2 linked regions of the Homo sapiens genome follow. The protein of the gene in region 2 interacts with the protein of the main gene of each other region in a biochemical or structural test. Each region holds a gene or a part of one and is shown on either strand. Other genes may lie near its edges.

Region 1 (7,344 bases), on a different chromosome or scaffold from region 2:
TGGGGACCTCGTGGTCCACAAGGAGTGTCGGTGCCTCATTCCCTGCTTCGTGGTCCTCATCACTCCAACCTCTGAATCCTCCGAGGTAGAAAAGGCAAAAATCGGGTTCTCCCCAGGAGGCTTCAGAAGGAACACAGTCCTATTTGTGACTACAAGATAATAAATACGTTGCCAGGTGTGGTGGCTTGAGCCTGTAATCCCAGCATCTTGGCAGGCTGAGGCAGGAGGATGGCTTGAGCTCAGGAGTTCAAGACCAGCCTGGGCAACATAATGTGACCCCGTCTCTACTAAAAAAATTGTTTTAATTAGCCGAGCGTGATGGTGCGTGACTATAGTCCCAGCTACTTGGGAGGCCAAAAGAGGAGGATCACTTGAGCCTAGGAGTTCGAAGCTGCAGTGAGCTATGATTGTGTCATTGCACTCCAGTCTGGGCAACAGGGTGAGACCCTGTCTCAAAAGAAAAAGAAGTGCTGTTTTAAGCCACCACATCGGTAATATTTTTATAGCAGCAATAAGAAACAAATACACTTGGGTTTCTGATATTCTAGAAGTTGCTATTCTGATGGATCGGCCCACTGTGCTTCTCTCTGGCTTCTGACAGCCTCAAGTGAGCAGTTATTTTTCTCTTCTATTCAGTGGGACTCAGGTCTAGCTGCTGGAAACTTATTAGCTGTAGGAATCCCACAGGTAGCAAAAAGGCAGGGGTCTCAGGTCCTGTGGGCATGTGCTTCTCAGCAAGAGGCCTCCGCCACCCAGCCTTGAGGGCAGGGCACAACAGCCCCAGCCGCCCACTCGCTCCCTCCCCAGCCCCCGCAGTCTTGAGGCTGATGCTGAAAGGAACCCCTGAAGTCTACAAAGAACCAAGTCCTCCCTGGATTCTCCAATCCCAGGGCCTTGTCCCTGGTCTTGGGGGCTCCCTGGGGCAACACAACCCATTGATGAGAGAGACTTTGGATCTCTGGCTCTCTCAACAGACCCCAAGGCCTAGTCCACACCCCACGTGCTCCACGTCCCAGCAGCCACGTGGTTCCATGCCCCATTCAGGCCGCCATTTCCCAGAATCCCTAGACACAATCTCACTTAATCCTCCCAGCAGCCTTATGGAGGTGTGTGATCTCCCTTTTCCAGGTGAGGAAACAGGCCCGAGAGGGTGAGTGCCCTATTTGACAACCCCTCTTGCTATCCAGCCAGAATGGTTCCTCTAGTACCCCTTCTGGAGGCCTGGCTGTACAGGTGTCCCTCAGGGACACACACCCCCACTCGACTCTGGGGGCCCAGCCCATCCTAATCCCCACCCCGGGGCTTCCCACCCCCCATCATACACTCTCCACATCTTCTGTGGCTGCAACAACCTTTTCACTTGGCCAGTTGGAGCTACTGACTGCTCACACAGGGTTTTAACGAAAATCTATGGTGTGCCTATTAGCTAGGGAAACATTTATTCTGGTGTTGTCAGAGAACCTTGGACAGAAAAGCTCCTCTTGATGTGTGCACTGCACATATGTGGATGCGTGTACATGCACGTGTCTGTGTGCCTCTATGCATGTGCAGACGTGTTTTTGTCTGTGCATGCATGTGCCTACACACACACATGAACACATCTTTTGTTATTAAAGATCTGTCAGAAGAGTGTCCTGGGTAACTCTAACCCATGTGGGACTGCAGAGAAGAAAAAAACCCACACCTTTTTTTGTCACAGCCATCAATGGTCCTTGGGTTTGTGTGCCCCCAAATTGAGATTATTTTTCCACCTGAGAAGGGGAGTGAGTGATAGCTACCATTTGCCAGGTCTCACCTCCTTTTACCCTCTGGAAAACCTAATAAGAAAAGTGATTTCTTTTTTTAAGCTCTGGAAAACTCCAGCCCCAGGGGGCCTTCTGTTCCTCAAAGCCTCCAAATTCTCCCTGCCTTGAGGTATGTGCTGTCCCCACTGCCTGGAGCCCCCTTTGCAGACTCTGCTTGGAGGAGCCCACCTGCGCCCCTGTCTGAGGCTGTCACCTGGCCACTGCCATGCCTCTGTCTCATCCCTGCATGAGATCCGTCACTGCCTGCAACTGTCTGGGTTGTGCATTTGTTTACTTTCTCCTTGTCCATCTTCCCCTCGCACTTACGCACCTCAAGGGAAGGGAATTTGTTGCTTTGCGCTGGGCTCGATGAAGGGGAATGAATGCTGGTTCAGCCATCAGCCCCGCACCCACACTACTGGGAGGGCAGAGGGACATTCTCCTTCTTAGAGGTGTGGCCTCTGGCACTCAGGCCTGCCACCCACGGACACTAAATAACCACAATGATTCCAAGCCCCGAGTTCTTGCTCCCTGAATCCCAAGGCTGTCTTTAAGGGCACAGGAAGATGGCCATCTTTTGTTGTTTTGGTTTAGTTTGGGGTTTTTTTGGTCTTTGTTTTTGAGATGGAGTCTTGCTCTGTCGCCCAGGCTGGAGTGCAATGGCACGATCTCGGCTCACTGCAACCTCCGCCTCCTGGGTTCAAGCAATCCTCCTGCCTTAGCCTCCCAAGTAGCTGGGAGTACAGGCATGTGCCACAACGCCCAGCTAATTTTTGTATTTTTAGTAGAGATGGGGTTCTGTCATGTTGGCCAGACTGGTCTTGAACTCCTGACCTCAGGTGATCTACCCGCCTCGGCCTCCCAAAGTGCTAGGTGTGAGCCAACATGCCCGTCCTTTTTTTTTTTTTTTTTTTTTTTGAGTCAGAGTCTCACTCTGTCGCCCAGGCTGGAGTGCAATGGCGCTATCTCGGCTCACTGCAACCTCTGCCTCTCGGCCTCAAGCGATTCTCCTGCCTCAGTCTCCTGAGTAGCTGGGACTACAGGCCCGCGCCACAACGCCTGGCTAATTTTTGTATTTTTAGTAGCGACAAGTTTCATCATGTTGGCCAAGGTCGTCTTGAACTCCTGACTCAAGTGATCCACCCGCCTCAGCCTCTCAAAGTGCTGGCATTTCAGGTATAAGCCACTGCACCCAGCAGGAAAGCTGTCTTCAGTAAAAGTATTATATAATGACACCTTGCATTCTGAGAGCAGCTGCTGTTTTCAAGGCTCTTAAAGAGCCTGGACTCTGGAGACAAAGGGGCCTCCAGAGGGGTCCACGCCTAGCTCCATCACTGTGTGACCCTGGGCAGCTCACTTCGCCTCTCTGAGCTTTTGTTTCCGCATCTGTAAAATGGGGGCATGGATGATGAGGTGGTCCCCACCCTCTAGGGTGGCTGGAAAATTATGTGTGGGAGCCATGAGCACATAGTGTCCGGCACGTGCCAGTGCTCAGTCAATGAGATTTGTCATTTCTTCAGTCAACAAATATTTATTTTTGAGCTGCTGCTGTGTGCATCATGAGCTGGGAGCTGGGGAGACAGTCAGTGGTGAGGGAAACTAAAGTGATCCCTGCCCTCTGAGCTGACGCTCCACAGATGCTGAAGAAAATGAGTCAGTGCACTGTGGGCAGTGTTCGGGACTGCCTCACGCTGTGCAGAGAAACAAAGAAGGGAGATCGGAGCGCAGGAGGTGCGTGGCTGTGTTATTTGTTTGTTTTGAGACAGGGTCTTGCTCTGTCACCCAGGCTGGAGTGCAGTGGTGTGATCGTGGCTCACCACAGCCTCAACCTCCCGGGCCCAAGTGATCCTCCTGTCCCAGCCTCCTGAATAGCTGAGACTATAGGCATGCACCACCACGCACAGCTATTTTTTTTTCTTTTGCGTAGAGACAGGCATCTCCCTATGTCACCCAGGCTGGTCGCAAACTCCTAGGCTCAAGCAATCTTCCCGCCTCGGCCTCCCGCCGTGCTGGGATTTCAGGCATGAGCCACAGTGCCAGCCTTCATGGTTATTTTAAAGATGGTGGTCGGGGAGGCTTCACTCAGGAGATGACATATGAGCAAAGATGCAGTGAAGGAGGTGAAGGAAGGAGCCGTGCGATGACTGACAGAAAGACATTCCAGGTAGAGGGCACACAGGTGCAAAGACCCTGAGGCCAGATCCAGGCTGATAAAACAGAGCATTTTAGCAGTCTCCTCTCCCTGCCATTTTTTTTCTCAAAATTGACAAGCACAAGTGTCCCCGGCCCAAGCACCGCAGAGAGCGCGCAGCATCTCTCCCCGTGACCATGACCCAGCTACTGCCTCTTTAACCTTGAATGCCTTTTTGGGGGCTCACGTGTCACCCAGTGGCGAGTGAGCCACCCTTACTTCAGAAGAACGGCATGGGGTGGGGGGGCCTTAGGTGGTGCCCGCCTCACCTATGACTGCCAAAAGCGGTCATGGGGTTATTTTTAAACATGGGGAGGAAGTATTTATTGTTCCTGGGCTGCAGAGAGCTGGGCGGAGTGTGGAATTCTTCTCGGGAGGCAGTGCTGGGTCCTTTCCACCATGGTGAGTACAAGGGCTCCAGGAGGTGATGATGCCGGGTGGGCGAGGAGAGGAAGCCACTACAAGCGAGGGACCACGGCGGAGGGGGAGGAAGGCGGCCCTCAAAGCCTCCAGCCCCTTGTGGAAAAAGCCCCATTGACTGCGCGGGCACAGAGGAACCCCAATCAATGCCCCGATAGGCCACAAATAACAGCAGCTCTCGGGGACTCACAAACACAAAATAAGAGAGTTGGCTTTTTTATGGCTTGTCTACTGACCTCTCGAGGAATCAATAACTCCCAGGACTTGCAAAATGGGATTGAATGCTTTTAAGGATCAAATTGTAATTCTTTTCTCTTGTTCAGGCAGCTGGGAAAAAGAATGTTTTTGTTTTCACCTTTTGAACTTGCAAATTTAAAACCTTTCTTTCTGTGCTGTTGGGTTAGGTGTCCCCCTCCTGAAGTGGGCAGTCCCCAAATCAGGGTCAGCACAGGAGGGAGAGTGGTTAGAGGCAGGAACTCTGGAGTCAGAATGCCCAAGTTCAACTCCCCAAGTTCAACGCCCAAGTTCAACTCCGGCTCTGCCTTCTGTGTGTGTGGCTGTGTGATCTTGGGCAAGTGACCCAACCTCTCTGAGCCTCAGTTGCCTCTCCTGTAAAATGGGGATGATAATAATAGTATCCACTTGACAGAGTGGTTATGAGAATTAAATAATACATATGTAGAGTACCGAATCATTTGCTGTTATTGAAAGTCAGAGAGAAGTGGGGTGGGGAAGAAAGGTCAACTCGCTCTTCTCTGCCCTATTGATGTGGTGCAAGGACGGAGCATTCAGAGAGGAGGTTTTGCTGCCATTTGGAGCAAGGGAAAATTGTGGGGTGTGGGGCGCAGTTGGGTTTTAACACCTTGAAGAACTGTCATTTCATCTTGGCATTCATCATGGCTTAGTGAGCCTGACTTTTTCTTTCCCTCCAATCAATTCTCCTTCTGTGCATTACTGAGCTTTTTGTGAAATGCATCAGAACAAAAGTGGCTGGATCCTGCAGGGGCGATCTGAAGGTGTGGCCTCCATCCCCAGGGACACACCTGTGGCTTCTCCTAGTTGGTGAAGGAGCCACTGCAAGATGCACAAACGCTTATGATCCACTGGTACCAGAGGGCTCTGGAGAAACTTCATGTCATGTCCTTTGCTCCCTCCAGCATCACCGTTTGGAGACCTGAGTGTGGATGCTGTACCCACATTTCACAGATGGGCAGCTGAGCCCTGCAACAGAGATGAACACACCCAGAGTAGGGGCCTGACCTAGTTTTTTGACTCCCAGCCTCTCACTCTTTTAATCGATGCTTTTTTCCCCCAGGCACCTAAGAAAGCAAAGAAGAGAGCCGGGGGCGCCAACTCCAACGTGTTCTCCATGTTCGAACAGACCCAAATCCAGGAATTTAAGGAGGTGGGTGCAGCTATTGAATCATCCGCCTGGATGGAAATCCCACCCACGAGGGAGAACCTTCTTTTTGTTCCATATTCCCAGCAGGGACCTTTCATTAGATGCCTCTATCCTCCAAACAATCCCAAATTCGGCCTGAACGGATGTGTGAATTTTTAAAAGAAACTATTTTTAATATTTTCACTGATTATCAAAGTAAAACATATTCCATGTTGAAAAATGTTGGAAAATTTTTCAGAAAAGCACAGAAAAGGAAATAAAAACTACCTACAATTCTATTACCCAGAGATAATCAGTTCACATTTTAGTATATACCCTTCAAACCATTTTTGTTATCTATGTATATATTTATTAAACAAAATTATAATCTTCTGTGCCCACTGATTACACCTGCATTTTTTTCGTTGAGAAATTCACCATTAACATTTCCTATCATGTATTTAAACCATTTCCTATGGTTAAATATGACATTTGTTTATAATGTTTTACTACTATAAATAACACCTCTTTGCTTGTATCTCTGGTTATTTCTTGGGGGTAAATTCCTAAAAGCAGAACTGCTGGGTCAAAGGAACTTAAAACAACAACAACAAAAGAACTAAAAACAGGCAGAACTGCTGGTCCGAATTGCCCCCCAAAATCACAGCACTAATTCCTATGCCCAGCAGCCTCGTGCCTTTCCCCACATTTCCATCAACGCTGGGTATTAATAGTCACAATTTTTTTTTGCCAGTCTGAGAGGTGAAAAGCAGTATCTTCTGGGTTTTACATTTTACAGTCTTTGATTATTAACCACTAGCCCCATTTGAAACCCCATCGCATTTGATGGCAATGGACCTTATGAAGAGAACCAAAGTACCAATTAGGCCAAACTGCACACGGGCTTGGATGGACAGGCTCAGAATTCATTTTCCAGCCGTTGCGAGGGCTCACACTGACTCATCCACATTCCCACCTGGCTTTCCAGAGGGAACTATGCTAAAATGATGCTAAAGAGACCAGACTGCTTTCTTTTTTTGTGCGTGTGACAGAGTCTCGCTCTGTCACCCAGGCTAGAGTGCAGTGGCACAACCACGGCTCCCTGCAGCATCAACCTCCCAGATTAATCAATCCTCCCACCTCAGCCTCCTGAGTAGCTGGGACCACAGGTACACACCACTGTGCCCAGCTAATTTTTGTGATTTTTGTAAAGATTGAGTCCCCCTGTGTTGCCCAGGCTGGTCTCAAACTCCTGGGCTCGAGCAATTCTCCTGCCTTGACCTCCCAAAGTGCTGGGATTACAGGCATGAGCCACTACACCCTGCCCTAGTGTGCTTTATATCAAAGGGGAAACCATTTGGGGCTTCCAAACAGGAAATGAACAGTCGTACCTTTTGTCCTCACTAACATTCAGATTGCAGGAATGCCGTGTCCCATAGGGAAAGAGAAATTCCTGAGGCAAGTGTCATATCTGAACTTGAGATAGTCACCTTCCAGGCAGAAAGCTACACCCGCCTCTTTTCCCAGCCTCTGGCATCAGCTGCCGGCGGTGTGGGTAAGGGATGCAA
Region 2 (7,022 bases):
GCAGAAACAGGGGACAGGCACCCATGGCTGTGGCCTGGCACCGTCAGCCTCTCAGAGGGCGGGTGGCACACTGTCCTCGCCCAGAGGACTGCAGGCCTGGTCACCAGATTGCCTGCCTATTCGTGCAAGTGTCACCTTGCTGGGAGGGAATCTGAATCTAGGGCTGGGACCACCCAGAGCTCAAGGCTAGGGATGCCCTGGTGACCCGAAGGAAGGAAAAGGTTCGGATCAGAGTTTAGACTCTGAGTGTCCATCCACTCTTTCAGTCCTGGGAAGGGAGACCCTGTCCCAGCTTGATCTCGCCTCTACTGAGGAATCATGGGGCCAAAACTGACAATTTCCAGAATCCCCAGGCTCTGGTCCTCACTGGGGTCACCCCATGGCCTGTGACACCAGATTCTTTTCTGCCCACAGCTCATAGATCGAGTGTACAAGGGAATTCCCATGAACATCCGGGGCCCGGTGTGGTCAGTCCTCCTGAACATTCAGGAAATCAAGTTGAAAAACCCCGGAAGATACCAGGTATGCTCAGCCAGAGCACAACAAACAGGACAGGCCGTGTCAGGGGCCCAGGTCTCCAGCTGGAGGGAACGTCAAGCCCACCCTGGGGTGGGGGGGTGGGAGGGGATGGTTAGATGCACATCCTGGGCATGGACGGTGACACAGTCACCACAGACAAACTCGGCTGTGGTGACCCTCCCTGGCCTCAGTAGCAAGCCAAAAAGCAGCTTTCTGCAGAAGGAAACCTTCCTTCTTTCCTTCCTTCCCGAAGTGCTGACTGTGGGCTGACTGCCATTTGGGGCAGGGAGTCTTCCATCTGTTCTGAGGCTGCTTCCTCCTCTTGGCCCTGCCCTACAGATCATGAAGGAGAGGGGCAAGAGGTCATCTGAACACATCCACCACATCGACCTGGACGTGAGGACGACTCTCCGGAACCATGTCTTCTTTAGGGATCGATATGGAGCCAAGTAAGCCTACGGGAGCCACACAGTCCCAGCAGAGATGGGGTGAACGAGAGGGATGGGGACTTCCCCGGAGCAGAAGCCAGGGTCACCCAGGAGGGATGACAGAGCTGCCAAGAGCTCTCCTGGCCCAGGGAGCAGCCGGCACCATGAACCGAGCACCTCCCTGGTTCCAAGCCCTGGGCCAGGCTGGAACATGTGGGGCCAGAACCCAGGAGGATCCTGAGGAGACAGAAAACAGCAAAGAAAATCACACGCAATGGTGAAAGGTGCTCTCCCTGACCCACGGAGACCCATGGTAGGACCCACAGGAGGGTGGCAGGATGGAGGGCCCATGAGCCTCCCCAGGCAACACAGCACCAAATGCTGGGAGAATTAGGGGTCCTGGAAACTGTCATCCAGGTCTGCTGGGAACATGACATGGCACAGCCACATTGGCAGCCAGTTGGGCAGTGGCTCACAAAGCTCAGTGGACTTGAACCACACATCCCCATGGTGTCACAGATATTGAACCCACTGATTTGAAAACTGACATCCACATGAAACCTGCATGCCAGGTTCACTGCTTGATTCCTCATCACTCACACATGGAGCCTTCGGGGATGGCCTTCAACACGGGAATGGGGAGAGACAGGCTGGTCCTCCCTTCAAACGGAAGACCCAGTGAGAAAAGGGAACGAGCCAGTGATGCCTGCACGAACGTGGGTGGATCCTAGATGCATTTTGCTAAGGGAAAGAAGCCAGACCCAATAAGCTACCATAGTAGGATTCCCATTCCTAGGCCATTCTGGAAAAGGCCAAACCATAGGGACTGAGCAGCAGTCTGGGTGGCCAGGGGCTGACGGATCGGGGAGAGGCTGGGTGCATAGGGGAAACCCTGGAGATTTGGAAGATGATGGAGTCGCTCCAGGAGGGGCTGGAGCGGTGGCCGGGAGACTGCACATTGGTTTGGAACCATGGAGGAACTGTGCACCCAAAGACTGAACTGGTGTGTGTGCAAAAGAAAAAAAAAATCATTCAGCGTGAAAAGGATCGGTCAACTCACTGTAGAACTGGGCTATTTGCATGTCACAGATGTGGATTTTACTGAAACATTTCTTCAACAGTCTCAGGCCCTGAAGAGCTCACTGCTTATCTGGTGAATCATCTGAACCTGAAATGGGATTTGTTAGGATTTGTAGACAAAGTGAAACTAACAGCATCTGCACAAACCAAACCATAGCCCCCTTTCTGTGTTTCCTAGGCAGAGGGAACTATTCTACATCCTCCTGGCCTATTCGGAGTATAACCCGGTGAGTATTCCCGGCAGTGAGGTTCCCAGGCTGTATTTCCATATTCACAGGAGTGGGTGTCTGGTGGGGGTGTCGTTGCTTCTTTTAAAGTTGGTATTTGTGACTCACCAGGATATAGGAGGTAGGATTCTAGGTCACCGCTGGCATAAACCTCCAAGCAAGGGGGTGGTCTCAAGGGGTCAAGCTGAGACACAAAGGACTTGGGGCCTGGACTCCTGGTGTCACCTGGGCCTGACCACCACTTCTCAGAACAAGAAATGACGCCCTCCTCCTGGGGCTGCTCCAAAGCAAAGGAGCTTGGCAGTGTCACACGCAGGACGGTGCTCTCAGGAGACATTTTGGACAAGGTGCTGAAGTGCCTGATGGACTTTGCTCTTGTCATGAAATGAATTTGCATCCTGAGGAAGCCTCTTCTTCAGAGGAAGCCTCCCCAGTCACCTCTGCCCTCTCCAATGACATGAGTCCTCCCAGGTGACCTCAGCCCTCCCAGGTGATGTCCTTCCATGGTGACTCTGGCTCTTGCAGGAGGTGGGCTACTGCAGGGACCTGAGCCACATCACCGCCTTGTTCCTCCTTTATCTGCCTGAGGAGGACGCATTCTGGGCACTGGTGCAGCTGCTGGCCAGTGAGAGGCACTCCCTGCCAGGTAGGTGAACAGCTGCCCGTGGGGCCTCACGCAGCCAGACCCGGGAAAGCCACTGTGGCCAGGTGATCTCGGCTTTCAGCCAAGGCACACTCCTTGTGTTGCCAGCTTGTTGGGAGCATTTAGGACGTCTCTGCTGAGGGTCCCACAGGAGTCCGCAGCTGACCCCCACAACCCAAGTCAGATGCCTTTCATCCCCATCAGCAGAGGGCATCTCATCCTCCCCATGGCCACCCTCTGTGTCCTGGAGCCACATCCTCCGGCTCTGATTCTGTTCAGCTGACTCTCCCCTCCCTGAGGGTCCTCCTGCCCTCCAGCTGCCTGGGCTCCTGCTGCCCTTGGTGCCCACAAATGGGCTGACCAAGCCCAGGTGGCAGCATCTCACCATCCCGTGTCCCCTGGCCCGACCCCACTTCCAGGAGATGACCAGGAAGCTCAGCACCCACCCTGTTCTGGCCGCTCTGTTGTGGCCTCAAAGTCAGGCTTGCCCTTTTGCACCCTGGCCCAGGAGGCTTCCAGGGGAACCTCCAGCCAGGCTCCAGGGGATGTTCCTGTCCCACCTCCCCAGGGCAAAGGCCGCATGGTAGGGTCACCAGATGGGAGGGCGGGAGGCCTTGGGGTTTGGGGGCCTCTGCAGCTGCCCAGCTCTTTCAGCTGATGGCTCCACACCTTGGGGGAAGGCTCTGATTTCATGATGGGCTGGGGGCTTCTCAGGATTCCACAGCCCAAATGGTGGGACAGTCCAGGGGCTCCAAGACCAACAGGAGCATGTGGTACCCAAGTCACAACCCAAGACCATGTGGCATCAGGTGAGTTTATGGTCCCCTCGGCTCTTCTCAGAGGCCCTGCCTCCTGTGGGGCTGTAGGAGCAGGGGGACTGGAGTCCCTTGTGGGACTGGTGACTGGCGGAGTCCCAGCTAGGGCCTGACCTGGGACGTCGGGTTCTCCATGGGCTGGGAGTTGGTTTCCTTTCATGCCCTGGAGGAGACAGAGGCACAGGGATGGGGGCCCAGCTCCTGCAGAGCAGGGCAAAGGGCAGTGTGTCCACCGGGAGTGTGGGAAGGGGACAGTGTTGTGGGGAGTTCTGGACACCGCCCAGTGTTCTGCACTAGGGGAAAGGTCTTCAGAGGCCCTGGAAGATGGAGGTTTTTAGGGCAGCCCAGGGGGCCCTGAGCACCTCTGTTCATCCCATCAGGACAAGGAAGGTCTATGCGGGCAGTGTGCCTCGTTAGGCTGCCTTCTCCGGAACCTGATTGACGGGGTAAGGAGGCATAGGGAGACCCTGGCTCAGGGACCCTCCTTGCCCTGCAGTGCCGTGCTTCCCCAGCCCGGGGGTCTGGCTCACTCCCAGCCCACAGGAGGCTCAGGCGGGTCCCCGAAGGACACACAAGCAAAACCCTCTGCCCAAGAGGGGTCATCCCAGGGCAATGGCTGGGACTCAGGTCCAGCCTCATGGGCAGACTGGGTCAGGACCCAACTTGAGAGGGCTCAGGGAAGCCTCAAGCCCTGGGCAAGCCCCTCTCTCCAGGAGCCACATACCCACTCAAATGAGTACCCCCCCATGAGAAGTTGCAAGACCTTTTCTGACTCAGCATTCTGGAGGGCTCAGGTGACCCTCATGGGGAAGGTCACTGACTCTGGAGACTGAAGCCCCAGTGTGCGCAGCTCGAGCCACCAGCCCCAGCCTGGAAGGGCCAGGTTCTCTCATACCTGCTGTCCCCACAGATCTCTCTCGGGCTCACCCTGCGCCTGTGGGACGTGTATTTGGTGGAAGGAGAACAGGTGTTGATGCCAATAACCAGCATTGCTCTTAAGGTTCAGCAGAGTAAGTCTACGTGTGCCCAGTGGGGCCTGGGGAGCCCTGCAGTCAGACCCCGACTGGCCCAAGGGCAGCTTCCTCACACTGTCCTCATGATCCTCTGTTCTGGCCCAGAGGGAGGTCTGGCCAGGTGGGCTGGGCAGGGCACTGTGACACCGAGCCCATCCCCCACATGACCCAGATGAAAGTCGAGAGTGTGGTGAGCACTTCCCTGTCCAGATCACCCCCCAGCCACAGTCTCCTGTGTACATCTGGATGCCTGGGGTGGCCACAAAAGGATTCGGCACCGCCCAGTGGGAGACTGAAGTGGCCACAGGGTATGAGCTGTGACCATTCCCAGGGAACTCTCCTGGCCTGATATCCACCCTGTCCCTAGAGCGCCTCATGAAGACATCCAGGTGTGGCCTGTGGGCACGTCTGCGGAACCAATTCTTCGATACCTGGGCCATGAACGATGACACCGTGCTCAAGCATCTTAGGGCCTCTACGAAGAAACTAACAAGGAAGCAAGGGGACCTGCCACCCCCAGGTGGGCTCCAGTGCCATGTCCCCTCCCATGTCAGCCTCTGGGGCAGTCAATAGTGGGCGGGTGCCCCGGACCAGCAACCCTACTACCTGGGCCTTCCTCTTCACCTTTTCTTCCTCCTCTTCCTCCTGGACTCTAAGAAAGTACAGGAGGCCCACCGGTCCTCAGGGCAGGCACTCAGTGCGTGTATACTGGATGTGTTGTGCACGCAGGAGAGGGATGTGGGCAAGACCCTCCAACAAGCCCCCTCCCACTTTCCACGGTGTCTCGCTCTCTCCCTCACAGGGCCCTCAAAGTTACTAGATGAGCCAGACCCATTTGTGGGAGACCCCGCCCCTCCCTGCAAGCACCCACAGCCTCAGAGAGCAGCAGAGGCCCCTCACTCCTGCACGCTCCTCCAAGGTTGCCAGGACAACAAGCCTTGAGCAAGGGAGACAAGGGAATCGGGTGTCCCTGACCCACAGGGCATTCAGGGAGAGGGCACAGGCGGGACCCCGGGCCCAGAGCCAGAGCCAAGAATTCAGCCAGATGTGGGAACGGTCAGTCCTGGCATGGACTGGGCAGCCCAGGGGGGCAGAGGGTGACCCACGTCCGGGCCCAGTCACCCACTGCGGAGACAGGTCCCCATGTGAGGTGGCAAGGAGCTGGGTGACATCCAAGGCCCCTCCCACTTGAGTTCTGATGGGGGGCCATATCCCAGGCCCAACAGCCCTGGGACGAAGGTGTGTGGCAGGAAGCCCCCAGCCAGTCTGAACCCTGGGGGCAGTCCCAGGAGCCACCCACCATGCCCCAACGGCTTCCCCATGCCAGGCAGCACACACCCCTCCCTCTGGGATCAGCAGACTACAGGCGTGTCGTCAGTGTCAGACCACAGGGGCCACACAGAGACCCCAAGGACTCCAGAGATGCAGGCAGGTGGGGCCCAGCCCGGAAAGGCCTGCATGGGCTCACTGGAGATGCTGACCACGTCTGTTTTCCTTTCAGCCAAACGCGAGCAAGGGTCCTTGGCACCCAGGCCTGTGCCGGCTTCACGTGGTGGGAAGACCCTCTGCAAGGGGTATAGGCAGGCCCCTCCAGGCCCACCAGCCCAGTTCCAGCGGCCCATTTGCTCAGCTTCCCCGCCATGGGCATCTCGTTTTTCCACGCCCTGTCCTGGTGGGGCTGTCCGGGAAGACACGTACCCTGTGGGCACTCAGGGTGTGCCCAGCCTGGCCCTGGCTCAGGGAGGACCTCAGGGTTCCTGGAGATTCCTGGAGTGGAAGTCAATGCCCCGGCTCCCAACGGACCTGGATATAGGGGGCCCTTGGTTCCCCCATTATGATTTTGAATGGAGCTGCTGGGTCCGTGCCATATCCCAGGAGGACCAGCTGGCCACCTGCTGGCAGGCTGAACACTGCGGAGAGGGTGAGGTTGGCTTTCACTGCACTGAGCCACAATGTGGGCATGGACTTCCCGGCCCTGCAGTGCACCCAGCACTGATTCCGACCGGGATACCTCCTTTGCAGCTAGGGACGAGCAGCAGTGCGCTCCCACTTCAGGGCCTTGCCTCTGCCACCTCTACTTGGAAAGTTCTCAGTTCCCTCCAGGCTTCTAGAAGCATCTGGGCCAGGGCTCATGGCTGGATAATTTCCCGAGGCTTAACAATCCAAGCAGGCTTCGCATCCTTGTTTTATTTTTTGTTAAACTTATGAAAATTTATTAAGAAAGCGTGCAGCTTGAAAGACATGCACAGATGGAACACACCAGCCCCCAGATCACAAAGCCAACCATGCCCAGCCCC

The links. The genes of interacting proteins can lie anywhere in the genome.
Region 1: the proteins of USP6 (region 2) and MYL2 form a complex in vitro, tested with the Homo sapiens proteins (one study listed by BioGRID and IntAct).

The regions. Positions count from the first base shown.
Region 1 is NC_000012.12:110,917,560-110,924,903, reverse strand, and holds the start of MYL2 (myosin regulatory light chain 2, ventricular/cardiac muscle isoform), read left to right. Parts: upstream 1-4,324; 5' UTR 4,325-4,374; coding exon 4,375-4,377; intron 4,378-5,710; coding exon 5,711-5,800; intron 5,801-7,344. UniProt on the Homo sapiens protein: Contractile protein that plays a role in heart development and function.
Region 2 is NC_000017.11:5,133,029-5,140,050, forward strand, and holds part of USP6 (ubiquitin carboxyl-terminal hydrolase 6), read left to right. Parts: intron 1-414; coding exon 415-522; intron 523-858; coding exon 859-968; intron 969-2,205; coding exon 2,206-2,254; intron 2,255-2,779; coding exon 2,780-2,900; intron 2,901-3,611; coding exon 3,612-3,706; intron 3,707-4,092; coding exon 4,093-4,158; intron 4,159-4,622; coding exon 4,623-4,722; intron 4,723-5,092; coding exon 5,093-5,245; intron 5,246-6,226; coding exon 6,227-6,646; intron 6,647-7,022. UniProt on the Homo sapiens protein: Deubiquitinase with an ATP-independent isopeptidase activity, cleaving at the C-terminus of the ubiquitin moiety. Catalyzes its own deubiquitination. In vitro, isoform 2, but not isoform 3, shows deubiquitinating activity.